4 linked regions of the Homo sapiens genome follow. The protein of the gene in region 1 purifies or fractionates together with the protein of each later gene. This does not show direct contact. Each region holds a gene or a part of one and is shown in the gene's direction. Other genes may lie near its edges. The genes, in order: SLC2A12, SLC25A23, SFXN5 and HOXD13.

Region 1 (7,023 bases):
CATAATGTTCCCTGTCACTCTCAGATAATAAAAAGTCCTCTGATGAGTTTTGGTGCCAATAAGACTCTCCTTCTAGAAATTCAAATGTTTAGTCTGGTACAATAATCAAATCTTGGAGCTCTATTTAATTTAGAACTTCTCTCCATCCAGCTTGCTTCAGGCCAGGACGCCCAAGTCAGAGAAGGGAGAGTAGCCGGCTTCCTCATGCCCACCTGGCTCCATTTCCTACCCACTCATTAGCTGTGATTTCTGACTCCTCCAAGGTCAGGGGGAGAGAGCTGAGGAAACAGCCCAGTCCTACAGCAGGTACACCTGGGCTCTGGCACTGAGGCTTCTGTGCTTGGCAGATGTCCAGAGCTGGCTCTCTTGTTGCTGCCAGGCAGGTGGCCCCACCTCTGCCCCTGCGGTTTGCATTTCTTGGGCCTGTGACAGATACCAGCACCTCATGCCCCTCACCCTATGCATGGGGACCATGGCCCAGCTCTCCTAATGTTTCTGTGAATCCTTTCTTCCTTGGCTGGAGGTGAGGAGGCAGCACGTCCCTTTACTGTCCTGTTCTGCTGAGGTAGGAAATGGTGCTTCCCAACCACAAATCCCGGCAGGATGAGGGCAGGGAGAGATCAGGGTGCTGGCACTCAGATTCAATGGGTTTTTGCTAAATGTGCTGTCCGCCACCCACTCTTGCCTTTCTTCTAGTGCCCTGGCTGGTGCTCAGCGAGATCTTTCCTGGTGGGATCAGAGGACGAGCCATGGCTTTAACTTCTAGCATGAACTGGGGCATCAATCTCCTCATCTCGCTGACATTTTTGACTGTAACTGGTAAGAAGTCTTTGTTTTCCTCTAATGTCTTTGGTCCTCGTAGGACAAATGTTAGGGAATCACACCCACCTAAAGACCATTTTTTCGTGGAAATTTTCAAACACACTTAGAAGGAGAACGGCCATGACCCTGAAGTACCCATGACCCAATTTACAGTTTTGAATGTAAATCTATTTATAACCCCACCTGCTCTTCCCCTACCCAATTATTTTGAGTCACATCCCATATGCAATGTTGTTTTTTCTGAAAAATTTCAGCATAGACCTTTGACATTCAAAAACATATAACTACAATGTCATTATCACACTTAAAAATATAATCATCCCATAGTATCAAACACCTAGTCTGTGTTCATGTTTTAATTGTCTTATAATTGCTTTTTATACATGATTTGAATCATGACCCAAATACATAACTTACAAGTCACTGAAATATGTCATAATTTGTAGGTTTTGTCTCCATCTCCTCCATCTCCTCACCCCCACTATACCTTATATTTTTAAAGAAATTAAAAATCTATTAAAAAACAAATGATTTATTTCATAGAATTTTCCAGTCTGAATTTTGTTGATTATAGTCATGTCACGTGCCCCTCTCTGTTTCTCTGTTTTTTTTTTTGTTTTTTTTTTTTTTTTCCGATAGTCTCTCTCTGTTGCCCAGGCTGGAGTGCAGTGGCATGAGGCATGATCTCGGCTCACTGTAACCTCCGGCCCCTGGGTTGAAATGATTCTCTTGCCTCAGCCTCTGGAGCAGCTGGGATTACAGGCACACAGCATCACACCCAGCTAATTTTTGTATTTTTAGTAGAGACAGGGATTTCACCATGTTGGCCAGACTGGTCTTAAACTCCTGACCGCAAGTGATCCACCCACCTCAGCTTCCCAAAGTGCTGGGATTACAGGCACGAGCCACCACGCCTAGCCCTCCTCTCTGTCTTTTATGTTTCTTGTAAATTGCTATTAGATTTAGATAGAGGCTTGAGGAGAAAGAGAAACCAATCCACAATAACAAAAGTCATGTTTAGGTGTCAGGCAGAATTGCTTGTAATAATAACAAACTTTTATTTTCAAAAGGGATCTCATCAAATTTAAGGATAGAGAGCAGCAGAAGGGAGATTCTTTTTTTTTTTTTTTTTTTTTTTTTTTTTTTTTTAAGACAGAGTCTCACTCTCTTGCCCAGGCTGGAGTGCAGTGGTGTGATCTCGGCTCACCACAACCTCCATCTCCCAGGTTCAAGTGATTCTCTTGCCTCAGCCTCCCAAGTAGCTGGGACTACAGGTGCGCACCACCAAGCCTGGCTAATTTTTTTGTATTTTTAGTAGAGATGGGGTTTCACTTTGTTGACTCAGGCTGGTCTCGAACTCCTGACCTCGTGATCCACCTGCCTCAGCCTCCCGAAGTGCTGGGATTACAGGCGTAAGCCACTGTGCCTGGCAGGGAGATTCTGTAATAAGGTCAGGCTCATTGTTACTTTCCACTGAAGCCTGAAATTCAACTGCATTGTATAGAAAATTTGAGGATCCCTATGTCGGAAATAAGGCAAGGCATAAAAAAATGTTACAAGCAAAACAAAAAATGGCTGTTTGTGTGTTCCATTCAGCAGCCCTATCTAAAGGAACCACAAATTAGATTTATATATTATAATAAAATAACCCAATATTAGGGATCAAATCAGAAACAGAAGCATTCGCCTTGTTTTCCTAGCTCCAACTTGTAAACATGAAGAAAGTAAGAAGGGAAACCCTTTGGGGATTACAAAGAATGATAGAGCTAAAATAAATAAATAAAGCCTAAATTTATTTTTTTAAAAACGATAGAGGCTTGAGGAGATTTACATGTCATTTTTTGGTGAACTCTGTGGCAGCTGCTGCCGTGTGAACTGCCAACAGGAGGCACATGAGGTCTGGTTGTCTCGCTGTTTGTCATTGTTGGCCTCCTTTGATGATCATTTCCCAGACCTACTCATTATGTCATTCCTTCTCCATTTTTATCTGAAATACCTCTCTAAAGAGAAATTTCTTCTCATTAGCTATTTGGCTATCCTGAAGTGTGGATCATATAAGAAAGGTAAAATACGTGCTTGAAACTTTCTCTTTATTTTCTAGTTTTCAAAATAATGTGGCAGTTCCCCAGTATCCACGAAAACTGACCAATGAGTCGGTTTCTCTTTATTTCATATATAGATGAGGAACATGCAGCATGACTACAATCAAGAAAATCCAGACTGTGGGAAGTTCTATGAAACAAATAACCTAATTTCTTCATTTCATATATATTGTCTTTATAGATACAATTTTCAAAAATGGATGTTTGCTGAAAAGCATGCATATATATAAACACATATATACACATATACACACACATACATACATATATATTTAGTATATCCACTTTTGGAAATTAACCTTTGGGGTTACTATTTAAGCGTGGTTTGGGTTTTTATATAAAATTTTCAAATGTTCCTATCCTACCTTTTGAGAAGTAGCTCAAGATTAAAGGAAACAAAGAAACTGGTCCTACTCAGATCACACACATAAACACATGCCCTCAACCTTCACATGTGCACACACGTACTCAACACACACACACCCTCCATCTGCTATTTGATGTGGAGAAAGAGAAATATAAAAGAAAAAATGGAATTGATGAGGGATGGAAAAGATGACACACATCTCTGGGAGGGCTATAGCTAATACACTGGAGGAGCTAGTGAAGCTTTAGAAGTTCCGTATGGGCTTTTAGAACAAATGTAGGAAAACAGATCCACTTAAAAACAAAAAGCCTAGAATGCTCTAAAACCTTTAGATGACATTTAATTGGAATGCTTGACATTTCCTACTTATTTTCAAAAATAAATTTTCCAAGTGTAGGACACAGGGATCTAAAAGACGTGAGGTTCTACTTGGCAGTAAGCCCTTAAACACCAACATTTTTTATGCAATTTCAGCTGTATCAATAAAAGCAGACTGTTCCAGATAGACAAATGTACTCTGCAGTGATCATGACACAATTGTAGCATTGCATTCAGCTCTGAGTAAAACATCTCGAGAGGGCCATTTAAAAATTGCAGTGTGTTCGCTGAAGGAGGGCAACCTGAATGGCGAGGGCAGTAACCTATGCTGTGGGAAGAATGGTTGAAGAGCTCAGGATGTTTGACTTGGACAAGGGGATTCTCAGAGGAGGGCTGAGGTGCATTCAAATATTTGAATGGCTGTCACGGAGAAGGGGTGGGGAGAGCTGATTCACTGTGTGTCCTTCCACAGGACAAAGCACAGCCTCTGAAAGGCAGATTTAGGATCTAAGCAAGGAATAACTTTTTAGCAGACGCAACTATTTCACAGGGCAGTAAGAGGCTTCGTGAAATGGTGAGCTCCCTGTTACTCAAAGTGCTCAAACAAAACTGGGGACAATTTGATGAGACAGCCTTTAGGGTTTTGACAATTTCTATATTCTGGTTTTAAGCTCCAGAGAAGGAAGGACACCCAATTCTACAAGGACTTTATTAAGCAATCAGTTGGGCCATACCCTGTGCCAGCTAGAAAAGCAGAGAGAGACAGGAGTTTAATTAAAATTGCCAAAAGAACTGCAGTGCGGTTCCTCCTTCCTGCTTCTCCCAACCTCAGCACAACTCACCGACAAGTAGTTACTATGCTTCGATTCTTTCATGCTGCATTTACAAACACTGCCTCAGTACACAAGTGCTCAGTCAGTTTTCCTGCCTGACCAACTGTGGTTTGTGGCTGCAGCTGTTAAAGGCTATTTGTAAAATCTTGTTGTTCGTAGTTGACTACTCCTTGCCACACTAGACATTCTGCTGCTGAGTCAGGGGCCGCCACAATGCAAATGGCAGCCTCAAGTGCACTGTGGGGGCCACTGCTGACCACTGAATGTGCCTTGACTTGGTCCATGACTACAAAGGGACTGTATCTTTGGCTGGAAGCGGTCAGAGGAAAAACTAGGTTTGCAGATGAGAGTCATCAGAATCTTGAGGATCCTGCTTCTTGTGATGCATCTTGGCAAGTTGATGGCTTTTACTGGATCCATGATCACTTTTTTCTCTGAACCCAGGAAGAAACATTACAAATACACTGCAAGCTATTAAAAATGATGAAATATTGCCAGCATGAAATGATTTATTCACATCAGAGCAAAGAAGGGTGAGCTCATTCCAAGAAAAATCCATCTGTACAAATGTCATTAAAAATGTCCACCATTGGGAATGATAGCAAGAGGGGGAAAAAATTGTCCACCGAACAGAAACTAAACTGCTACCATGGCGATTCCCAAGAGGGGAACTGTGGAGAGGGAGAAGAGAGATTTTACCTTCTACATCATATGTTTCCATGTTATTTGAGGTTCCTTTTTTGCATGTGCTTTTTTATATTAATAAAGACACATTGCCATTTTGAAACAGAAAGACATGCCCACCAAGAAGATGACATTGGGTGTAAATTGTGATAGTTACAAGACTGCTATTTTCTTCAACAGAGAAAACTAAGGTAGTCTGTAAAAGTAACACCTTCAGAGCTGGCTACATTTTAAATTTGTGATTTCTATTTTCCTGGATACTGCTGGCATGTTTGAAAATACATATGGTGCTATGTATGCCCTAAGTGGCTGTTCACAAATGGGATCAAAGCTACACAAAACACATTTCTAATCAATTTCTTTTGTCCTTTATAGATCTTATTGGCCTGCCATGGGTGTGCTTTATATATACAATCATGAGTCTAGCATCCCTGCTTTTTGTTGTTATGTTTATACCTGAGACAAAGGGATGCTCTTTGGAACAAATATCAATGGAGCTAGCAAAAGTGTAAGTATTACATGCATTGGTTTCTGAACAATACTCTTTGGTCAAAAGTGCAGCTTTTATATACAGCAAAGGAATAATATCTGAAATTATTAGATATTATTAGATTAGGACATTCCCTTTAGCGTAAGACTATGTCTCAGTGCATAATTCCAATTTCCCTGCTTTGTCTTTAATTTGGGTGATTCAGCTAAGGAAGAATAACCATTTCTTCCCAATGAATGAAGCTTTTTTTTTTTTTTTCAAACTACAAAGTGAATGTATTTGATTGGCAAGTGCAAATTTTCACTTATCAATGAAATATTGTACTGAATTTGAATAAAATCTTTACAATTGGAATGTTTTTTAACGTTAGCCTTTTATAATTATCATCAAACTGTAATGCTATTATTCATTACTATGACCAACCAATATGTACGTACAAGGTTACAAGTTTTTTCCTTTTATACGAAACAAAAACAAAAATACATCATTGTAATTAAAAAGCATTAAACCATATTTTCCTTTTTTGTAATGTAATAATTTTTACTAGAACAAAGTTTAATATTTTCACTGTCTGCATTTCTTTTCGGAAAAAGAAACTGTTACTATTGTTGTTTTACCTGATTTTTTCCTGAAACTAATTTTGTTGTACAGAGGATGTGAATCTTCTGTGCTACTGATTAAAACTATCTCATTTAAAAAACAGTTTATTTCCATAGGTTTTTGGGGAACAGGTGATATTTGGTTACAGAGTAAGTTCTTTAGTGGCGATCGTGAGATTTTGGTGCACCCATCACCGGAGCAGTATACATTGAACTCAATTTGTAGTCTTTTATCCCCCACCACCCCCCAATGCTTCCCCCACCCAGTCCCCAACCAACGGGTGAACATTTTAAAGCTCTACTCAATCACCATCTCAGAACTTCTTCCGCCTCTCTAGCTCCCCCCAACAGGTTTTCTTTGTTTGGGGTTTGGGGTGGGTCCCGGAAGTGTAGATATACCATGTTCACACTGGGCTAGGAACTTGGGTCTCAGCCTTTCCATCTCTATCAGACTTAGAGCTCCTTCTCTGTGCCCTAAACACTTGCTAAGGCTAAGATTAGCAGAAAAACTCTCAGGCTTAACCATCTACCGTTGTTCTAAATATTGCACATTTAAGGTAATTTTAAGAAAGATAAGTTTCTTATATGAATAGGCTTTTAGAAAACTGGTTTAAAAAATTTCACAAGGAGAGATTGTTTAAACAATTTAACTTAGAAGTGAAACATTTAATTTAGAAGTGAGTGGCAGAAAATTCCCTTTCCTTTTTTAGTAGCTCTAATTGCCAAAACCATGTCCTGGGGGAAGAGGTGAGACATAGGGGCTAAGAATGAAGCAGAACTTGTTACTCTTCCTAGGATTACGTCGTTC
Region 2 (7,023 bases), on another chromosome or scaffold:
AGCTACATGGGAGGCTGAGGCAGGAGAATCTCTTGAACCCAGGAGGCAGAGGTTGCAGTGAGCTGAGATCGCACCATTGCTCTCTAGCCTGGGCAACAGAGCAAGACTCCGTCTCAAAAAAAAAGAAAAAAGAAAATGATGGTAATATTTGCTACATCTCTAATAGGGTTGATATGAGGACTTGAACCTCCCAAACTGCAAAACCTAGCAGAACTTCACCCCAGCCTAGCCCACCCCCAGGCACTGAACCTGTCCTCCTCCACCCCCTTTCTTCCCCCCAGCATGGACCGAGACGGCACAATGACCATTGACTGGCAAGAATGGCGCGACCACTTCCTGTTGCATTCGCTGGAAAATGTGGAGGACGTGCTGTATTTCTGGAAGCATTCCACGGTGAGGTGGGGGTGGCTTTCCCCAGCTGAAGGCTGTGCCCTCTTCCCCAGGGGGGCCTTGCTCCGATCTCCCCAGGGCTTGGATGGGCTGGACCAGGACTTTCCAGAAGGAGAAGGCACTGGCAGCAGCTGACGGATGAGGGTCTGTTCCTCTCTTCCTCCACTTAGGGTTCAAGGGTCCCATTTGGGACATCTCTGCTGTCTGATTGAAGCGCAGCCCTTGAGACTTACATCGGGGCCTCTGGGGACAGCGTGTGGGGGTTGCGGGTACAGGGAAGAAAGAGCTCACCAGATGGGGTACAAGGCCTCCCACCTTCCACCCACACAGCTCTCTTCTGCTGGGTTCTCTGCCTGGATAAAAGATTCTACGGCTGAACAGAATCGTTCAAAAACCACGGTCTTGGCCAGGCGCAGTGGCTCACACCTAAAATCCCAGCACTTTGGGAGGCCGAAGTGGGCGGATCACGAGGTCAGGCGATCGCGACCATCCTGGCTAACATGGTGAAACCCCGTCTCTACAAAAATATTAAAAAAATGAGCCAGGTGTAGTGGCAGGCACCTGTAGTCCCAGCTACTAGGAAGGCTAAGGCAGGAGAATGGCGTGAACCCAGGAGGCGGGAGCTTGCAGTGAGCCGAGATCGTGCCACTGCACTCTAGCCTGGGTGACAGAGCCACACTCCGTCTCAAAAAAAAAAAAAAAAAAAAAAAAAAAACACGGTCTTCAGAGGATCCAATGGGAGCCACTAGAGAGGGTAGTGGGGGTTTGCTCTAGATCCCTAGTTCCTGGGTGAAATGTCTATGAGCAATGTGTCTGGTAGGATCTGATGGCATCTGGAGGGGGATCCGTCTGTGGGATCTGGTGAGAACCTCTTTGGAGATCCAGAGACTCCCACCCCAGACGATTCATGGGGACCTTGGTTAGAAATTCTAGACTGGAAATGATTCCTGCACGGGGACTCCATGTGGAGGAGATCCCTGTGAGATTTCGTGGGTCCCTGAGAAGGATCTGCTGGGGTCTTTATAGGGGAGGTGCCTGGTAAGATCTTGTATGGCCCTGAAGGGATCTTTTGGAATCATTATATGGAAAACCCTTGAGTGGGATCCTTCAGTAGAATCTCATTTGCCCTGAGGGATCTTTTTTTGCTGTTACAGACAAGGTCTTACTCTGTTTCCCAGGCTGAAATGCAGTGGTGTGATCATAGCTCAATGTAGCCTCAAACTCCTGGGCTCAAGCAATCCTCCCATCTTGGCCTCCTGAGTAGCTGGGACTACAGGCACATGCCCGGCCAATTTTTGTAGAGAGGGGATCTTGCTATGTTGCCCAGGCTGGTCTTGAACTCCTGGCCCCAAGGGATTCTCCCACTTGGGCCTCCCAAAGTGCTGGGACTACAGATGTGAGGCATCACATCTAGCCTGGAGGGATCTTTATGTGGCAGATACTTGAATAGGATCCTTTAGTGGGATTTGGCAGATCCTTTGGTGGGATTTAGTAGGATATTGGGATCTTCTAAGGAGGCTGCTAGGTTAGATGCTTTGGTGACACCTGGTAGGACCCAACAGGACTCTTCTGGGGTCTCCAAGCAAGAGTCATTGGCAGACTCTAGGGTATCCTAGGATTCATAGAGGAGACTCCCCTATTTAGGACTGAGTCACATCTCCCTGTCCCCACCATGGCATGACACCCCCAACACCTGTATCTTTAGGTCCTGGACATTGGCGAGTGCCTGACAGTGCCGGACGAGTTCTCAAAGCAAGAGAAGCTGACGGGCATGTGGTGGAAACAGCTGGTGGCCGGCGCAGTGGCAGGTGCCGTGTCACGGACAGGCACGGCCCCTCTGGACCGCCTCAAGGTCTTCATGCAGGTGAGGGGCTCTGGAGAGACCTGCCCCCTCCCCCAGGCCTGACACCTGGGAGGGGACCTCCAAGCTGTTGTCTCCCCATTCAGGTCCATGCCTCAAAGACCAACCGGCTGAACATCCTTGGGGGGCTTCGAAGCATGGTCCTTGAGGGAGGCATCCGCTCCCTGTGGCGCGGCAATGGTATTAATGTACTCAAGATTGCCCCCGAGTCAGCTATCAAGTTCATGGCCTATGAACAGGTGAGGGCAGGTACAGGGAGGAATGTGCTTGCCATAGGGAAGACTGGGCTGTACATAAAGATTTACGGGATTGGCTTGGGGGTGGGTGGTGAACACAGGTCCCCAGGATCAGGCATCTGCTCCTCTGCATGAATGCCTGCAGCAAGCCAGTTCTTTGGAAGCCAGGAGAACAGTGGAGTGCAAGGAAGGTTCAACCCCCATGGTCCTACCCATCCCTGTGTCTCCCCGCCTCAGATCAAGAGGGCCATCCTGGGGCAGCAGGAGACACTGCATGTGCAGGAGCGCTTCGTGGCTGGCTCCCTGGCTGGTGCCACAGCCCAAACCATCATTTACCCTATGGAGGTGAGAAGGAGGGACCCCAGCGGAGGCCCCATGGCAGGGTGGGGGGCCTGCTGTACCCATCTCACTCTGCATTTCACAATATCCATTGGGATTTTACCTTTGTCCCTCTCTGATTTGGAGTATAGCTCATCAGAGTAATGCAATTTCATGTGTAGCCTGTCTGGGTATTACAACTGAGATATAATTTCTGGGGAAGGTAGTGTCGGTTATCCTTGTTTGGATGGTAGTCATAGGAGCCAGCTGTTTATAAATATGCATCTTCTAAGGATAGGGTGCACGTTCCCAGGGACGTCGTGTCTAGGTGTCACCAACTGTTTATGAATATGCCTCTTCTAAGGATAGACTGTGCTAGCTACATGTTTTCAGATAAATTATTTCAGGTTTCAGGTTATGAAGTGTATTGTTTGGATTCTGAAAGTGACAGAAAACTTAAATCATGTCAGCTGGGTGCGATGTCTAGCGCCTGTAATCCCAGCACTTTGGGAGGCCGAGGCAGGTGGATCACCTGAGGTCAGGAGTTCAAGACCAGCCTGACCAACATGGTGAAATACCGTCTCTACTAAAAATACAAAAATTAGCTGGGGATGGTGGTGGGCACCTGTAATCCCAGACACTTAGGAAGCTGAGGCAGGAGAATGGCTTGAACCTGGGAGGCGGTGGTTGCAGTGAGCCAAGATCATGTCACTGCACTCAGTCTGGGCAACTGAGCAAGACTCCAGCTCAAAAAAAAAAAAAAAAAAACTTCAATCACATCAACAAAGTCTACAGATGAGCATTTCAGGCTGGGATGGTAGCTTCAGAGTGTTAGCGATGCAGGTTCTTTCTGTCTATCTTGTTGTTACACAACCTCATGGACCAATGTGGCTGCTTGTGCTCCGTTCATCACATTCCACACTCCAGCCAAGAAGGAAGAAGCAATAAAAAAGGAAACACCTCCCCACCTCTAAGGATGCTTTCTGAACCTTATGTGTACCTCTTTCTCTTCCTTCTATTTCTTTGGCTAGGACATAGTGACATAGCCACATACCCAGGGCATCTGGGAAATGTCATTTTTCTTTCTAGTGGCTGTGTGCTTGCTGAAAGTTACAGTTTCTGATATGAAAGCAGAAGGGAACAAGATACTGGAGGTCTGGGCATGATGGCTCATGCCTGTAACCCCAGTCCTTTGGGAGATGGAGAGGGGAGGATCACTTGAGCCCAGGAGTTCGAGACCAGCACGGGCAAAGTAGCGAGTCCCCATCTCTACAGAAATGACCAAAAAATAAAAGAAAGATATCAGGAGACAGTTACTGGTGGTGCCACATGTGTGCACTTTGGTAGGTGTAACTATTTCTAGGTATAGGGATTTGGGGATAGCAGAAGATTCTAGAGTAGGTGGTTTTTAAAATTCGGTTGTTCTCAGGGCATCTGTTTTCAGGAGTAGCTATTTCTAGGTGTCTTCATTCCTGGATGTAGCGATTTGGTGGGACAGCTTTTCCAGGGATAACCAGGTTCTCCCCAGGTGCTGAAGACGCGGCTGACCTTGCGCCGGACGGGCCAGTATAAGGGGCTGCTGGACTGCGCCAGGCGTATCCTGGAGAGGGAGGGGCCCCGTGCCTTCTACCGCGGCTACCTCCCCAACGTGCTGGGCATCATCCCCTATGCGGGCATCGACCTGGCCGTCTACGAGGTCTGTGGGCAGCGCGTTCCTCTTTCCCTGCTCCCCTCTGGGATTTACCCACAGGACACCCCTTCCCCTTCCCCTGGGGCTGGCTCAGTTGACCTGCTATAGTTAGAGAAAGGCAGTTATGAGGTGAGGAGCACCTTGGCCCTGGGAATCCTGGGGAACCCTTCCAGGTATTGGACTCTCCCACTTCTCCACTTACTTTTGATTAGCAGCTCAGCCTTCCGGGGTCACCTGAAAGTCAGGGACCACTCTAGCTGACAAACATAAGATCAGGCAAAGATTACAAAAATTAGCCAGGCATGGTGATGTGTGCTTGTAATACCAGCTACTCCAAAAGGCCGAGGCATGAGAATTGCTTGAGCCTGGGAGGCGGAGGTTGCAGTGAGCCAACATCCCGCTACTGCACTCCAGCCTGGTGACAGAGCTACTGCACTGCAGCCTGGGCAACAGAGCGAGACTCCTTCTCAAAAAAAAAAAAAAAAAAGGCAGGCAAAGATGAGTCTCAAAGACACCCAACTTCCCCGAAGCAAGTATCAGACCCAGCCACGGTCTCTAAGCCAATGTCATCTTCAGGGCCTGCCCATTTGAGCATCTGCTGTTACCATAAGAACCACACCTAATCACCAGCATCTTGAGACCTTTATCAACACAGGCAGGTGCAGACAGTTCTTGGCTGTTTCTCTTCCAGGGACCTCATCTGTTGCTTTTACCTTCTAGTGGGATCACCAGGTCTCCCCCAATTAGCATGGTCCTGGATGTCCCCAAGCGTTCCCCCCAAAATCTTTGTATGCAAGACAGGGCCTGCTTCATGGGCATGTGACCTGTGAAGTCGCAGAGAGCCCCATGCTCGGAAGGGCCCTGTGCTTGGTGTAACGCTCTGCTACTGCTGTCTCGAAATTATTTTTATTTATTTATTTATTTTTTTGAGACGGAGTCTCGCTCTTGTCGCCCAGGCTGGAGTGCAATGGCGCGATCTCGGCTCACTGCAACCTACATCTCCTGGGTTCAAGCAATTCTCCTGCCTCAGTCTCCCGAGTAGCTGGGATTACAGGCATGCATCACCATGCCCGGCTAATTTTTATATTTTTAGTAGAGACAGGGTTTCACCATGTTGGCCAGGCTGGTCTCAAACTCCTGACCTTAAGTGATCCACCCGCCTTGGCCTCCCAAAGTGCTGGATTACAGGTGTGAACTACCATGCCAGGCCTGAAATTCTTAATTTTTTTTTTTTTTTCCCGAGACAGAGTCTCACTCTGTCGCCCAGGCTGGAATGCAGTGGCGCGATCTCGGCCCACTGCAGCCTCCACCTCCCAGGTTCAAGGAATTCTCCTGCCTCAGCCTCCCGAGTAGCTGAGATTACAGGTGCCTGCCACCACGCCTGGCTAATTTTTGTATGTTTAGTAGACAGGGTTTCACCATGTTGCCCAGGCTGGTCTCAAACTCCTGACCTTAGGGGATCCCCCCACCTCAGCCTCCCAAAGTGCTAGGATGACAGGTGTGAGCCACCACACCTGGCCAATAATTTTTGAACAAGGGACCCCCACCCTTTTACATTGTGCACTGGATCCTGCAAATTATGTAGCTGATTCTGATCTAATAGGCTCTGTTCCTGCCATCTTTACCTGCCCTCCCCAGCACCTGGCATGTAGACAACCAAATGAGACAAGACCGTTGCTCACTCATTCATTTGTTCCTCCATTTTGTTGTTCACTCATTCGCTTAGTGACTATTTACTGACCATCTACTCTGTGCTAGACACTGTGCGGATTGTGGCAGTTGTGGTGTTGAATGAGACCAGCATGGTCCCTGCCATCCTGGAATGCCCATTCCCATAAACAAGGCAGGCAATCAACCAGCAAATAAGATAGTTTCAGCTCCTAGAAAAGCTCTCAGAAGATCACAAGACAGGATTTGTCATCTTCAGTAACAGTGGGCGGGAGGGGGGTTGAGGAACGCCTCCAAGAAGGTGACATTGAAGCCATGGGTTGGGCGTATTATCACAAGGGAGCATGCACAAATCTAGTACCCAGGTCTGGAAGCAGGAACAAATACGGCCTTTTGGAGGAGTGGAAGTCTTAGGTGTCTGGGGGGGACTGATCAGGGCAGGGTACAGGGTCTTCTAAGTAAAATAGGAAGCCATTAAGAGGTATGAGTAGAGGCCGGTCACGGTGGCTCACACCTATAATCCCAGCACGTTGGGAAGCCGAGGCCGGTGGATCACCTGAGGTCAGGAGTTCAAGACCAGCCTGGCCAACATGGTGAAACCCCAGCTCTGCTAAAAATACAAAAATTAGCCGAGCGTGGTGGTGGGCACCTATAATCCCAGCTACTCAGGAGTCTGAGGTAGGAGAATCGCTTGAACCCAGGGCGGGGCATGGGGGTTGCAGTGAGCCGAGTTCTTGCACTGCACAGGTGACAGAGTGAAACTCCATCTCAAAAAAAAAAAAAAAAAAAAAAGAGTTGTGAGTAGAAATAAGATGCGGCCAGGAGCAGTGGCTTGTGCCTGTAATCCCAGCACTTTGGGA
Region 3 (7,023 bases), on another chromosome or scaffold:
GGCACCAGGCTGGGTCTGAGTTGGCTCCGGGCCCAGGCCACAGCCCTGAGTCCGCTCCCCCAGCTTCCTTTACTCCCTGGGCTCCAGGTCTTTCCTTTCTCCCAGGCATTCGCACATCTCTCCATCTACATATTTTAACTCCCCCAGCTGCCTTTCCCTTCCCTCCTTGCCATTTTCCTCCCCCCTCCCTTCCCCCTGTCCTACTGTGTTCGCTCTCAGGCCTGCTCTGGGCTGGGGCTTCCGAGGCTCCTGTTTCAGCCTCAGGCCTGACTCCTTCCTGAGCTGGGAGCCCAGGCCTCAGACTTCTTGGACCTCTTTCCCACTGAGTACTTCAGCCAGCCACCCTGAGAGAGGAGCCTTGGTCACAGCCCCACAGAAAGGGGGTCTGTCTAGTGTCCCCACCAGCAGGTCCCAAGGACTGAGCCCATGGCCTGCTCTTCACTTGCCGGGGGTAGCGTCTCTCTTTCTTTTTCTCACCCTTCACTGCTCTCAGGGCTGTGGGCAGGGACCCTCGGGGCTGTGCTTCCAGGGACTCCACACCCTCTAGTCACTGCCACTGGAACAGGAGGGCAGCCCCGTCCTTCCACAGCCTCCTCCAAGCAGGGCCTCCAGACTCTGTATGAAGCTTGGAGAATGAGCCTTGTATCCCCCGCTCCTCATCTTGCTTGAGAAGTTCATCTCAGGGCCCTCTCAGCCTTACTCCCAGCCCCTCCACGACCCCTAAGGAAGTCCAGGCGGGCATGGGCTAGCATGGAGTAGAGAGAGAGGGTGGGGGTGCTGGATGGGGATTGGAGGATCAGAGGGGTTTGGGCTTGATTTAGGCACCTTGGTCCTACTGCTCAATCCTGTGGAAACTCCCCTTTCCAATAGCTTAATTCAGGCCGGATTTAGCAGCTGGACAAACCTTGCGGTCTGGGCCTGTGGGAAGGACTGGAAGACAGGTGGGCTACCAGGATCCTACCTTCCCGCAGGTAACATGAGCAATAACAACAGCAATAATGACACATAATTTCTGAGCACTTACTGTGTGCCAGGCCAGGGCTCACCCTTTTACTTGCATAGGATTTGCAAGTAATGGGATCTTTATTAATACCTGAGCAGGAACATCCAGGGCCAGGGTTTATCAGAAGTGTGGTCTGGGATCACCATTTTAGACTCATGGAGGGTTAAAATGCACATTTCCAGGTCCAGTGCCCACTGAATCAGGCTTTCATGGTTGTAAGCAACCCTTGGGCATTTGCATTTTTAACCAGTTGCCCAGTCCAGCTGATGCACTTTAACTTTTGAAAACTACTCCCAATTTTGCTGTCTTCTCAGGGCCAGTTGCTGTTGGGATTCTTGTCTCAAGAGGTGACAGTATATGGGGTTTACTGCCCGCCACATTGGGGCTCTGCCCCTAGGAGGGCCCCTTACCTGCCTGTGGCATGGTCAGCCCTGCTGGGGGCGGCGGATAAGAGCCTGGATTATTTCCCCTTCACACCAGGAGCCTGTCACTTGGAGGCTAACAGTTACTGAGGTCAGATTTAGTGCCTGCCCAACACCCCCTGGCAAATAGTCTAGTCATCCCAGGCCTCCCCAGGTGGAATGCTGTGGTCCCCGCTGAAGGGCCTGCTGTATTGAGCAAAACAGGAAGCTCCGATGAACACAGTGCAGGCACATTGGCCAGCTGGTATGTCCCCACGCTGTCTGGGGAGCCTGGGCCCCAAAGGGAGGTTTATCATGCCCCCTCCCCTGCCCAGGAAACCAGCTCCGAAGCCAGCCATGGGAAGAGGGTGCCAGCTGTGTTGTGTTGGTGATGAAGCTGGCACAGGGGACCAGCTGGGGTGACAGCACCCTCGGGGAGCCAGGGGTCCAGGCAGCAGCTCTGACAGCCTCCTGCAGACTTGGCCTTGGACGAGTCATTGCACCCTCTGTTGCCCTTGGGTTGAAATTGACAAGGTGGCCAGTGGGGTGTCTTCTGTTCTCACACATAGAGGAGGATCACCCCCTCCTGGCTGGCGTGTGCCCATATGTATGTGCTTTGTCATCTCCCCTGAACTTGGCACCTACTCTGGTTTCTTTGCTGTTTAATTACGTGCTGCCCTCGAGAGCGATCTTACGTCCCTATGTGTCTCCCCAGGAACAGGGGCCGACAGCCTCTTTGAGTGTCTCTCCCACATAGGGCCTTCTTGGCACGGGGCTGGACGCGTGGCGGGTGGGTGCCCCGAAAGTACTCATTCGTGACCTGAGTAATTGAGGTTTCAGCCAGCAACGTCCTTCAAGACATTGGGATAGGGGTCTATACCCGCTGGGATAGGGGTACCTATCGGGAAAAGGTCCCAAAGACAGAACTCTGCTATATCTGTTTAGCTGCACACTGGCACTGCCCCGGAACCACGCTTCCTGGGCCCAGAGACAGAGTGGGACCCAGCATGGTGGCTGGCAGCCAGCCCACCCCACCTTCGGGTCTCATGGGGCTCCCTCCTCTCTCCCTCACAGGACGGCTCTCCTGCAGGCACGCCCCCGGCTGCTCCTCCCTGTGCAAAGCCTCGTGTGCCTGGCAGCCTTCGGCCTGGCCCTGCCGCTGGCCATCAGCCTCTTCCCGCAAATGTCAGAGGTCAGTGGGGAGGGGCTCAAGGGCAGGGCAGGGCAGGGGGTGCTGTTTGGTGATTTCTGAACAAATACTCATACCGTGCCGACTCCTTAGCGCCATGCTAGGCGCTGGGGCTGGAACCGTGAATGAGGCTGGCCCAGGCTCTGGCCCTCAGAGTGAGGGTCACGCAGTCAACAGGGTGATTAAACAGAGGCCAGCAGATGAGGAGCCAGGAGCGTTAGGGTGGGAGAAGCTCCACTGGGTGTGGAAGGAGACAGCAGACCAAACTGAGCCTAGAGGGAAGTGACATTTCACTGGGACTGGGAGCGTGGCTGGAGTTGGCCAGATGAAAAGGGGTGGCGGGGGGAGATGTGAGGTCCGCGGACACCTGGTGTGAAGGTTCTGAGAGGTGAGGCAGCACACGCCATGTCCAAGAGCTGACCAAAGTCTGCAGCGCAACCAGGGAGTGCAGCAAGGTGATGTGGCCTGGGAATGAGGGGCTGGGCTGGGTGGTGTTGGGAACTTGGAAGCCAGAACAGAGAGGGTGAATGTCCTCCTAAGGGCTGTGCAGGGCAGACCACAGATGCCTGATTCTGAGCGGCCCCTGTGCTGCCGCGTGGGGCTGGGTTAGAGCTCCAGAGAAGGAACCATCAGGAGCCTGTGGCGGGCATCCAGCAAGCGGTGATGGCGGCTTGGACCAGGCTGTTGGCAGTGGGCATGGAGAGAAGTGGGTCCCTAAAGAGGGAGTCAGGAGGCGGCTTCTTCGGGATTCGATGAAGAGCTGTATGTGGTGGGAGGGAACGGGAGCCAGAGGATGTGCACTGGCTTTCTGGTTTTGAACAACCAGGCAGATGTAGGTGCTTAATGAGATGGAGCCAGGCGGGGGCAGGTTCGAGGGAGGGCAGTGGGTCAGTTGGATGGACACGCGGGGTTGAGGAGCCTGTGGGATGTTGGCTCTGGGTCTGGAATGAGGAGAGACGCCTGGGCTGGAGGGATAGAAGTAGAGCCTACCAGCATGACAACAGTGCTGGAATCGAGGGTGGTGGGTGAGGCCTCCACCCTGGCGGGGTCCAAAGACAAGCAGCCAGGGTGGTGAGGGCAGATCCGGGCCATGTGTGATCAGGGTGGGTGGGGGGCATCCACAGGGTCAGACCCTCCTGAGAGGTCACACTCCATGAGATTACAGAGTATCCATTAGTGTCTCAGGCAACGTAGCCAAACCCTGTCCCCAGAGAAGGGATCCAGGTGACAGGTGAGGGGAAAAAATGAGAAAGACAGGTCCACAGCCGCAACAAGATGTGGGATCAGGAGGGGCTTTTATTTATGTATTTGTCCTTGTTTTAAATGGGAGAGACAGGGGCTTGCGTAAATGCAGTAGAGAAGGCACCAGGAGAGATGTCGAGGACGCTGACAGGACGATTTTGGGAAAGTCTATGAAGAGGAGGGGGGACCAGAGCACAGACGAGGGGATCAGCCTTGGCACGGGGAGACCCCTCCCCACTTCAGTAGGTGGAAGAGGAGTGGGGTGGGAGGAAAATGCTGCTGGGGGTAGGGTTCAGGGGTAGGAAAATTGAAGAAGTTGTTCCAATGGCTCCTGTGTTCTTGTGACTGAGCAGACAGGAGAGAGTAGGGTGGGGAAGGGGCAGGAAGTCAGAGGTCTGAGGACACAGAGAAGGGGTGAGACATCCAGGGGAGAATGAGAGGTGAGGAGGCTGAGCAGCACGTGGTCTGGGAGTGCAGCCGGGCCTGTTCACCAGGAGGTGCTATGGGCCAGTACAGGGAGGGCCACAGATCCTTTCTTCTGGGGTTTTGTCAGGTTGGGGGTGAGGGGGGCTGAGAGATGGGTGACAGCACGGAGGAGCAGAGGACCACGGGATCCACGCTGGGTTGGAGTGAAGGTGGGAGCTAAGCTGAGGGGAAGGCACAGACCCAAGAGGGCCCAGGAGGTGTCTGCATTGAGCTCACAAGAAGGCGAGGGCTGTGGCCAGAAAGCGGCGCTTCTGAATCTGTGATTTCACCATGGACCTGCTTCAGGCAGGGCCCCAAGAGAGGTGGAGGAGAGGTGAGGGCTCCTGGAGACAAGTCGGGGAAGTGAAAACAAGAGGCCGGGGCTGTTGGGGCTGCGAGGGCTGGAGACCCAGGCTCTTAGAGCAGGAGGAGGGGGTGACCCGCCTTAGGCCCTGGAAGGTGAGAAATGGGGTGGCTTCCTTCCAGAGCCCCAGAGTTTGAGGAGGAGACTCTGTGGGAGTGGGGCTCCTGTCTTGGGGGACACCATTCAACGCACACCAAGATTAAAGCTAGCAGGACCTCATCTCATGCCCACAGCGGCCAGCCTTGTCATGGGTGCTGGGATGCTCCTTCCCCCACCTCTCACCCTGGGAAACCTGCAGCCTGGGACTCCAAATGGAGCCATGGGCTCTGGGTTGCCTAGTAGCCCTGAAGAGGGAAGGCGGGTATTTCTCAGTGGTCTCTGACATCCCTGTCCCAGCCCAGCACTCCCTGAAGCCATTGCATCTGTCTGTGCAATCAGCCTGAGCCCAGGGTCCTAGGCCAGGGCCAGAGTCACCCATGTGTTTATAGGTACCTCTGTGCTTCTAGTAGCTGTCATAACTCCACCTGCCTGCACAGAGAAGGGACCCAGGGCAAAGAAAATACTGATGCAGAATCAGAGACCCTCCCAGTTAGAAGGATTTTCAAGGTCATCCAGTTTACCTTGCTACTGACTTTGCTGGGGAAATGGTGGCCCAGAAAAGCCATGGGACCAGCCCAAGGTTGCAGAAGTCAGGTGCCGATAGGAGAGGAAACACCAGAGGTCCACACTCCAAGTCCAGGCCCCTAGGAAGTGCTACACCTGATCATTTCCTGTGGCTGAGTTTCTCTCCCTAGTCAACCACCTTACCTACCTTGGGACAGCCAAGAGAAGAGGGAGCTGGGGGCTGCACTGTGGTGGGTGGTAGGAAACGGTCTAGAAGAGCTGTAGGTCTTTGGCAGGTGTTCCTCTGGGGCATATAATGGGGAGATGCCTACCATTCACCCACCCAGGCCTCCAGCTCTGGCTGCAAAGCAATGATGGAAAGTGAGCCACCCTGGTCTCACAGCTGCTGCAGGTCAAAGCCCAGGCTCCCCTCTCCCCACATGCCTACTTCAAATAGACATGGGAGTTAGTTCTTCTGCATATTTAACCAAAGTCCCTCTTATTGCAATCCAAGCCTCTTTCTCTAGATTGGGAAGAAGATAGTCATTGCATGTTAAGTCTTTGTTCCTCTGGGAAGGGAGGGTACAGGCATGATTTTCAGAGCTCCCTCCTCAGCTATGTGGATCCCAACAAGATGCAGGCTAGCCTGGGCATTATGGGGTGTTTTGAGCCCTGTTTGGGACCCATGGCACCAAAGCCTTCAGCCAACTTGCCGAGAGGGCCTTGTTTCCGCATTCACTCTCCCAATTAATTCTCCCTAACAAGGTGCTTCTTCTGCCATACAGGGATCATGTCTCACATCCCAGAAGCCAGTGGGATTTGCCACAATAAGTCTGGACTTGCTTGGGCTGACCCAGCCTTGCCAAAAGCCACCAAGGTTGTCAACAGAAGTAATCACTGGAACACCAATTAACTAATCAGGGGACTCGGAGGTAGAATTTAGGAACTAGTTCCTAGAGTGGCTGGCCTGCAGTGATTGTTGTGGAGTTTCCAACTCACTAACCCCAGAGATTGAGGCAAGGACTTCAATCCTTCCTTCAGTTCCTGGGGGAGAGTTTTATCTGCTCTTTTCAAATTAGTAGTTCTGCTTATTAAAATGGTACTGAGGGTCAAACTGCAAATAATAATAATGGCTACCATTTGCCAGATATCTATTGGACCAGGCAGCATGCTGGGAGCTCGGTGTACCTTACTGTATTAAGTCTTCCTAATGCCCCTTAAGTCTAAAACATTGAACATCAAGAGATGATTCCTAGACAGTCAGATGGCTCTGGGGAGAGAGTTTGGCTGGAGATACGGAACCTTCAGTGTATGGGGGGGAGTTGAAGCTGAGAAAGGGGATGTGGTCCACTATAGGAGGAAGAAAAACCATCAAGAAGGGGAAGAAGCAGCCAAGGGCACAGGGAGAACCCAGATGGAGTAACTTCATGGAAGCTGAGGACTTGGGCGATTCAAAGAGGAGGGGCTGTCTCCAGAGTGGGTGAGTGCAGAGGGGACTAGGAGTGGAGGAGACTTAGGTGGCATAGCTAGACATGGCAGTCTAGGAGGCAACATGGTATTCAGTTTCTTCTTTGTTCAGATGATTGAGCTCAAAGATGGGGAACTGTGGGAGAACAGCAAAGAAACTGTGAGATGGAGGTTGGGGGGCTTGGAGAGAGGGCAATGATGGGGAAGGAATGCCCAGAGCCCAAGGCGGGAAGGCATGGCCTCTATGGAGTCCCTGGGTCCAGTGAGTAGAGGGGGCTACCTGGCTGTG
Region 4 (7,644 bases), on another chromosome or scaffold:
CCTTGGGACGCATGCTTGCTCGAGAGCTGGGGCTGCAGGGTGCAGTGGGACAGTAGGACCGCGAAAGCCTGGGCTTCGAGCCTCGGGCTCCCTGTCTTCAGGCGAAGTGCGGTTTCCACGGGTGCAGGTTTCGCTGCATAAGGGAAGACTCAGATTTCGAGCCCTCGGCAGGCCAGCTTCTAGCTCTCTGTCCCTTCCGGGTCTCTCCGGTTGCTTCTGTCTTTCCTCCTCCCACTCCCGTCGCAATCCCGCGCCCCACGGAGGAAGGTCGTGGTGCGGGAGTTGGGGGATACTTTCTTCCTGGGCTCGGTCTACGCAGACCCATCGCCTGCCTCGAGTTCCTGTGCCCTCAGACGCCACGGGAAAACTTGCAGGGACATCTAGCGCCAGGCGTGGGGAACTGCGCGCCGCCGGGCCGGGAAGTGGAGCCGAACACTGCCCCTCCGCCTCCCTTTCGGCTCCCCCCTTCGTGCTTGGGCACTTTCCTCACCTTCATCCCTTTGCCCTGCCGGTAAGGACAATGTGGATTCCCCATAGAGACAATGGACTCTGCGGAATGGAGATAGGTAGGTAGACAGACATTTTCTTTTATCTCAAGCTACCGACAGAGTGAGAATTTACTGGACTTCCCAGTAGTTTTGCTAGGGAAGTGTATTCCAAGGACAACCCCTCACCTTGAAATGTCGGATAAAACTTCAGCAAATTAGGGTCCCAGCTTTTATTTTCCAAAAAAAGGCAACAAGTTACTCTGGGCCTCTGGCTCCTGCCCCACCCTCCTGCGTCCCTTTCACAGTGAGATTAGTGCTTCTCTTCAAAGGAAAGAATCCTCACTGTGTTTAATTTTTTCCAAGGCTGGAGAAGTTCTCTCCATCCCAAAGAAGGGCCCGCTGTCCTGCATGAGGCAAACCTGGTTCCACCAAATAATGTTTCTGATTTGGAGGGGGTTTGGAACTGTTGTTGCTGCAAACGATTTTCATTTGATAAAGCCTAATCGTGTTGTGAAACCCAAACGGAATATGTCTCAAAGGTAGAAAGTACTCAAATGTGGCTTCCACTGTCTAGCTGTTGCTAGGGTCCCCTTTTTTCACAATAGGTTTGGTTTGTTGTTGTTGTTGTTGTTGTTGTTTCTTTTGATATCTCCAGGCTGAGTAAAACTGGGTGTTGCCTGGAGAGGGAAAATTAGCTCCAAAGTTGGCAGAACACAGATTTGGTTAAGAACACTGTCCAGCCACTTCTGCTAGACTTAAGATTTTACTTTGGAATTAAGACTCTATTTCTACACCAAATATTTGGCTTCTTACAAGTTAATTAGGAGGGTGTCCTGCACTTCCTGATCTTGGCCATCAAGACAAGTGCTTTCAAAGGAGTCCCCAGGACCCCACTCTGATAGAATCCTGTGATCCTGGCCTTAATGGCCACTGATTATGTGGTTAATTGAGCTCATTGCTGTCTTGGCAAGCAGAGCAACTTCAATAAATCTAAATCACAGCCTGTATCTGCCCATTCCCCCAAACCAGGACAAGAGCAAAATTTGAAAGATCATCTACTAGGTTGAAAGGAGAGAATATGACTTCCAGAACAGCACTGATGCTTAAAAAGGATGCCTCTGGAAGAAAAGGAGGAAGAGGAGCAAGTGATGGGAGAATACAGTGGGACTTTGGGCACCATAGGGTCATCCTGAGTTTTTCACCAAAATCAGGAACAGCGGCAAAACTGGTTTCACTGAAGAAGACACACGTTTGGAGACATGTGTAGTCTCCAAGGATTCTCACTTAACAAAGCCTATTTCTGTTGTTAAAAACCCCTGCATAATGCACCCACACACAAACACAAGGCTTGGTCTGTGTTCCTGGCCACCTAAAGAAACTGATTCCCAGTAAGTTTAAACCTGAATGAAATGTTTCTGCAAATTCAGCCTCAAAATTCCTCCTCTACCTGGCATCCCTGGCTTGTAAACTATGTGTCTCATTAGTTCATAAACAAAGCAGCCCTGACTTTGCCTTGTACTCAACCACAGCCCTAGGAGCCAGTAGAATTTGTCCAGAGGTGCTGGGCTTTGGAGCCCAAGTGGACAAAGTCAGACCCCCTTTCCTCAGGGCAAAGCCCTCCCACAGGGCTGGGACCCCAAAGGCTATGCTGGAAGCAGGTTCAGCAGCAGGATATCAAGGGGCAAAGCTCCTAATTCAAAATCTTCCTGGCTTCTGAACAACCATTAGGATGGACAGAGAAAACTTTTGCCCTGCTCTGAGAGGGTCCCACAGGGCTTTTGGAAGCAGAGCCACCATTGAGAAATCCCTTTCAACCTGAGTAGTAATTCAGATTTTTCTCCCACTCCTGCACAACTTAATTTGCTGAATGGAAAATTCAGCCAGAAGTGATGGGCTGCTTGAAATCAACAAAACTTGACACATTCTTCCCATTTTCATTTTACTTTATTGTTAAACACATAATTGATCATTAAAATGTACTTATCAGTGAGAAAATGAAGCAGAAGCCCAAGGCACAAAACCACAGGGATATTTAATTTTAAGAGACTGAAAGTTTGTTGGTTCTACTTATATCTTAGAAATATTTCAACGAATTTGTTTTTTGGAGTCATAAAAAGTTAAAACTATCTTCATGTTTTCTCTGTCTGAGGAAGAAAAAATGAGACAAAGGGAAAATAAAAGCATTTCATGGTGGCCCATGGTTGGTGGTTTGGTACCAAAATTGTTTCATAAAGACCCAGCCAAACCCTCTTTAAAAGTTAGCAATCCTGTCGCCTCGCCACAGTTGGCCTTTTTAAAATGCTGGTTGAACTTTCATTGCTGACTTTTGCCTTCTTTTCCCAAATAGTGAAAAAAATTTTCTCATCAGCAAACTTCTATTCCCTATGATTTCCTGTAAATTCAGGCCCCTCCCATCTCAAATTTGATCATGAACATGTCTAGAACTTCAAAACGATGAAACGAATTCTCTTGCTTTTCCTTTCCAACACCCCTCTCATAACTTTCCCCTTTATTTGAGCCTTTTATGGTTACTGCGTTTTGCATGTCAACACTCCTAACACCAGCAGCCTACCCTGAAATGCCAGGCCAGGCCAAGGAGGGCCTTCCTGGCTCTCTTCCTCATCTTACTCAGGGCATCTTTGGTCGGGGAACAGTGGTGCTGGGTGACAAGCTTTCACCAATCACAGGCTTAGGGGAGTGATTTTCTTGGAGATGGGCTGGCTTGGGGAGTGCATGCCACAGAACCAAATGGGCTCTGAAGGATCCCATATCCACCCCCAGAACCCTGGGCTCATTGGATCTAATATTGTTCCTAAGGCAGAGCCCCAAAGTCACAGCAGGACTCTCATTGGTGCCCCATTAGTTGCTGAGATTGAGGGATGGTGGGCTGGAGCTCTGAGGCTGAGGAGCAACAGAAAGGGATGATGAGGGACAGGGCTGTAATCCCTAACACCCTGGCAGCTTGGTTCCAGAGCTGGACCTAGCCCCACCAGCACTGCCCTGAGCCCACCTAACCCCTTGAAGTCAGACCGTTTCTCTGGGCTGCTCCTATCACAAAATCCGAATTTGCTTGGAACAAGCGCCCTCTTAATTTGCCCCTCTCAGTTCTCTGCAGTTGACAGCTTGGAAAAGGAAGCGAAACAAAGGTCCCTGGGAAAGTGAAGTTTTCAATTAATTTGGTGTGAGAAACGGGCGGGAGTGGGTGGTGACTGCAAAATGCGAGGCCGGTCGGCTGCTGGAGAGACACAGAAGTTTCACGGTGGGAGGCTGAGTGGCTTTCTCCCCCGGCGCCGTTCTCAGGGTCTTTCTGCGGGTCGAAGAAGGACCCGCGGGAGCTGAGAGGCCCAGGTCGGAAGCACTCCCGGCTGGCCCAAGAGTAGAGGCGAAGAGCGTTGAGTAGGCATCCATGGACTTTTCTTTCTGGGACAGATTGTCAGGCTCACTGCGCCGATGCCTGTCTTTCATCTGTTTAAGTCTCTGCCGCCAGCCCCAAGGGCGCTTCATGGGCATTTTCCGAACGGACAGCGTGTGTGTATAGGAAGGGTCTGCTCCAATGCCTCTTACCTGTGTGAAATGCCTTTGCCGGGTACCAGTGCACAAGGTAGGGCAAATTAGCTCACTCGGATTTGGGGTCTAGAAGTCGACTAACTGAGGGATTCAGCAACAGGATAAAAAAATGGGCCTGTTTTCACATCATTCTGATCATCTCTGTCCTTCGTCTTCATTTTGCTGTGCAACTCGGGGAGCCGAGGAGAGGTGGCAAAAACAGCGGTTGCCGAGACAAGGCGCAGGCCTTGGCGCCCGCCTCAGTCGCAGACAGGGCCTGGGATGGGCCGTCGCGCAATCAACTCGTGGGGGTGGCTGCAGCGCGTACGCCTGGGTCGGGGGGGAGGGCGGGAATGGGAGGTGGACCCTGCAAGGGGCAGGAGAGGGGTGGGGGCCGGAGTGGGTGGGTCCAGCCAGGCCTGGGCCGGGAGCCAGGCTCCCCCGCGTTCCTACCCCCACGTGGCCGCGCGCAGCCAATGGCACGCCCCCGGCGGGGGCCCTCGGGGCGGGAGGCGGCCCCCCGACCGGCCCAGGCCCCCTCCCAACCTGAACTTCGTTTTTATAAACGTCCCGCGATGAGCTAACCTGTTGGAGGGCAGGCGGGCCGGAGGCGGGAGGCTCACAGAGGGAGAGAGGGCTAGAGGAAGAGGGCGGGAGCGAGCGAACCAGAGAGAAAGGAGAGGAGGGAGGAGGCGCGCCGCGCCATGGTGTCCTGCGCGGGGCCAGGGCCAGGGCCGGGGCCGGGCCAGGCCGGGCCATGAGCCGCGCCGGGAGCTGGGACATGGACGGGCTGCGGGCAGACGGCGGGGGCGCCGGTGGCGCCCCGGCCTCTTCCTCCTCCTCATCGGTGGCGGCGGCGGCGGCGTCAGGCCAGTGCCGCGGCTTTCTCTCCGCGCCTGTGTTCGCCGGGACGCATTCGGGGCGGGCGGCGGCGGCGGCAGCGGCGGCTGCGGCGGCGGCGGCGGCAGCCTCCGGCTTTGCGTACCCCGGGACCTCTGAGCGCACGGGCTCTTCCTCGTCGTCGTCCTCTTCTGCCGTTGTAGCGGCGCGCCCGGAGGCTCCCCCAGCCAAAGAGTGCCCAGCACCCACGCCTGCAGCGGCCGCTGCAGCGCCCCCGAGCGCTCCAGCGCTGGGCTACGGCTACCACTTCGGCAACGGCTACTACAGCTGCCGTATGTCGCACGGCGTGGGCTTACAGCAGAATGCGCTCAAGTCATCGCCGCACGCCTCGCTGGGAGGCTTTCCCGTGGAGAAGTACATGGACGTGTCAGGCCTGGCGAGCAGCAGCGTACCGGCCAACGAGGTGCCAGCGCGAGCCAAGGAGGTATCCTTCTACCAGGGCTATACGAGCCCTTACCAGCACGTGCCCGGCTATATCGACATGGTGTCCACTTTCGGCTCCGGGGAGCCTCGGCACGAGGCCTACATCTCCATGGAGGGGTACCAGTCCTGGACGCTGGCTAACGGGTGGAACAGCCAGGTGTACTGCACCAAGGACCAGCCACAGGGGTCCCACTTTTGGAAATCTTCCTTTCCAGGTAGGGGCGATGGAGAAAAGGGACCGACACGAGGGAGGGGGAGAGAGAAGGAGAAAAGAAAGGACTAAGAGTATGCGCCCCTACTTGGGAGTGGGAGTTGTGCCTGTGCTCCACACGTGACCAGGGTTAACCCAGTGGAAATTTGTCCAGTTCGTGTGAAATCTGTAAATTCCTCCTCTGATTTCAACTGCCTCCGTCACTGCCCTTTCTTTCCTGTGTGCAGCGCAGACACGTTTTTCTCCTAAAGTTGAGAGTCTCTGCGTGCCCTTTCCTTGGGCCTCTCCCTTTTCTCCTAAAGAGAACTTTTTCCTAAGAAACCTGACAGAGTTGGGTCCCCCCATTTTCAAAGACATCACTGCCCCAAGATGACTACTAAAGCTTGTTAGATCAAGCTCACGAACTCCTAACATAGGAACGCGGGAAATCAAAATTTGAGCAAAAGACCTGAGTTGGTATGTGTCTATGTATGTAAGTTTGTTTTTATACAACCGACATTTGCAGAAACTGTCCTCATGAACGTGCCCAATAACCACACCATAAAATTGCAAGCTTGTTAAGATGCCGGTTTGAGAAACTATGATAATCAATCAAATTAACCATTGTTGTTAAGTGCAAATAATCCTTCTTTAATAACAGGTAAGTGTTATGTCTATGTACATAATAAAGACCAAACAGCATGGCATTTTTTAAAAATTTCCTGCACCCCTGCAAACGCACACACACACACACACACACACACACACACAATCCTCAGCTAGGTGCTCCGAATATCCCAGCCTAATTTTTCTTGTGCTTTTGTTTGTATCAGGGGATGTGGCTCTAAATCAGCCGGACATGTGCGTCTACCGAAGAGGGAGGAAGAAGAGAGTGCCTTACACCAAACTGCAGCTTAAAGAACTGGAGAACGAGTATGCCATTAACAAATTCATTAACAAGGACAAGCGGCGGCGTATCTCGGCTGCTACGAACCTATCTGAGAGACAAGTGACCATTTGGTTTCAGAACCGAAGAGTGAAGGACAAGAAAATTGTCTCCAAGCTCAAAGATACTGTCTCCTGATGTGGTCCAGGTTGGCCACAGACAGCTTAGAAGCCATTCGGTTGTCTCCAAAAGGCCTTTGGAAAGACTTGAATATGTATTTAATTCCCCCCACCCCCTGCCAATGGTGGCAAATTTTGTGAATTGTTTTTCTCTCTTCCCCTTATCTGGCTCTAAAACCTTCTGCTGCCCAACCTGACTTTGTAGTTCTGATTTTTACTTGTTTATTATTGGTTTTGTTCTTGCCTAGGGTTTTTAAAATATCTGTTTTTAATGTTTTGTTTCTCCCTCCAGGCCAGTATAAAGGGACTTGAAGTATTTTTTAATAATCCGCCCCCCAATGAACTTCAGAAGTGCCATTCTGATTTAAGGGTTTTTTTAAAAAATTACTTTATTTGTTCATTCCCAGCACTGATTATCTTCATAATCCATTAGGACAGAATGGTTTTCAGTCGTTCATATCCTGTAATTAGGTAATTGAATCATTAGCTCTCAGCAGTTGCCCTGAGGCAAGTGGAAAGGCAGGCAGTGCTCTGGGGTCACCGAGAAAGTCTAAAAACAGGAGGCTGAAGGTACTGTGATGGCTTTAAAAATGGCCACCTTATTAAATAGGGATTGTATCAATATTGAAATGAAGACAATCTTTCCAACTTTGGGTGTTTCACTTGCTGTTTTAATTGTTTGTTTTTAACACTTTGTAGGTTTGTGTTTTCATAATCTTTAATTTGAAACTCATGTGTCCTCATGGATCGTGGATGCCTTCATTTCTTGAGCTCTCAATGCAGACATTTAAATGGCTGCAATCAGTAGAGTGACCCGCGGATGGCATAAATGCACCTCCTTTTCTTGGCCTTGGATCTATGGGTCTGGGATTGTGGTCATCTCCTCAATCCTCAAAAAGAGGCTGAATCAATGTGGCCGTGGGTGGGAACTTACATACAGAACCCAATGAAGAACTTGACTGTCTAAACAAGGGGGCCTCGCATGGAGCTGTAAAGCATCTAACAAATATGAAAAATGTGAAGTTCCAAGGT

Evidence for each region.
Region 2: the proteins of SLC2A12 (region 1) and SLC25A23 purify together in Homo sapiens (affinity purification with mass spectrometry; 2 studies listed by BioGRID and IntAct, with this or other methods). This does not show direct contact.
Region 3: the proteins of SLC2A12 (region 1) and SFXN5 purify together in Homo sapiens (co-immunoprecipitation; 3 studies listed by BioGRID and IntAct, with this or other methods). This does not show direct contact.
Region 4: the proteins of SLC2A12 (region 1) and HOXD13 purify together in Homo sapiens (co-immunoprecipitation; 3 studies listed by BioGRID and IntAct, with this or other methods). This does not show direct contact.

Annotation. Positions count from the first base shown.
Region 1 is NC_000006.12:134,000,608-134,007,630, reverse strand, and holds part of SLC2A12 (solute carrier family 2, facilitated glucose transporter member 12), read left to right. Parts: intron 1-696; coding exon 697-819; intron 820-5,501; coding exon 5,502-5,634; intron 5,635-7,023. UniProt on the Homo sapiens protein: Insulin-independent facilitative glucose transporter.
Region 2 is NC_000019.10:6,449,790-6,456,812, reverse strand, and holds part of SLC25A23 (mitochondrial adenyl nucleotide antiporter SLC25A23), read left to right. Parts: intron 1-281; coding exon 282-393; intron 394-720; coding exon of another isoform or gene 721-861; intron 862-2,095; coding exon 2,096-2,254; intron 2,255-2,337; coding exon 2,338-2,490; intron 2,491-2,724; coding exon 2,725-2,832; intron 2,833-4,333; coding exon 4,334-4,501; intron 4,502-7,023. UniProt on the Homo sapiens protein: Electroneutral antiporter that mediates the transport of adenine nucleotides through the inner mitochondrial membrane. Originally identified as an ATP-magnesium/inorganic phosphate antiporter, it also acts as a broad specificity adenyl nucleotide antiporter.
Region 3 is NC_000002.12:72,956,704-72,963,726, reverse strand, and holds part of SFXN5 (sideroflexin-5), read left to right. Parts: intron 1-2,478; coding exon 2,479-2,596; intron 2,597-6,623; coding exon of another isoform or gene 6,624-6,747; intron 6,748-7,023. UniProt on the Homo sapiens protein: Mitochondrial amino-acid transporter. Transports citrate. Does not act as a serine transporter: not able to mediate transport of serine into mitochondria.
Region 4 is NC_000002.12:176,088,100-176,095,743, forward strand, and holds the start of HOXD13 (homeobox protein Hox-D13), read left to right. Parts: upstream 1-4,621; 5' UTR 4,622-4,791; coding exon 4,792-5,572; intron 5,573-6,380; coding exon 6,381-6,631; 3' UTR 6,632-7,644. UniProt on the Homo sapiens protein: Sequence-specific transcription factor that binds gene promoters and activates their transcription. Part of a developmental regulatory system that provides cells with specific positional identities on the anterior-posterior axis.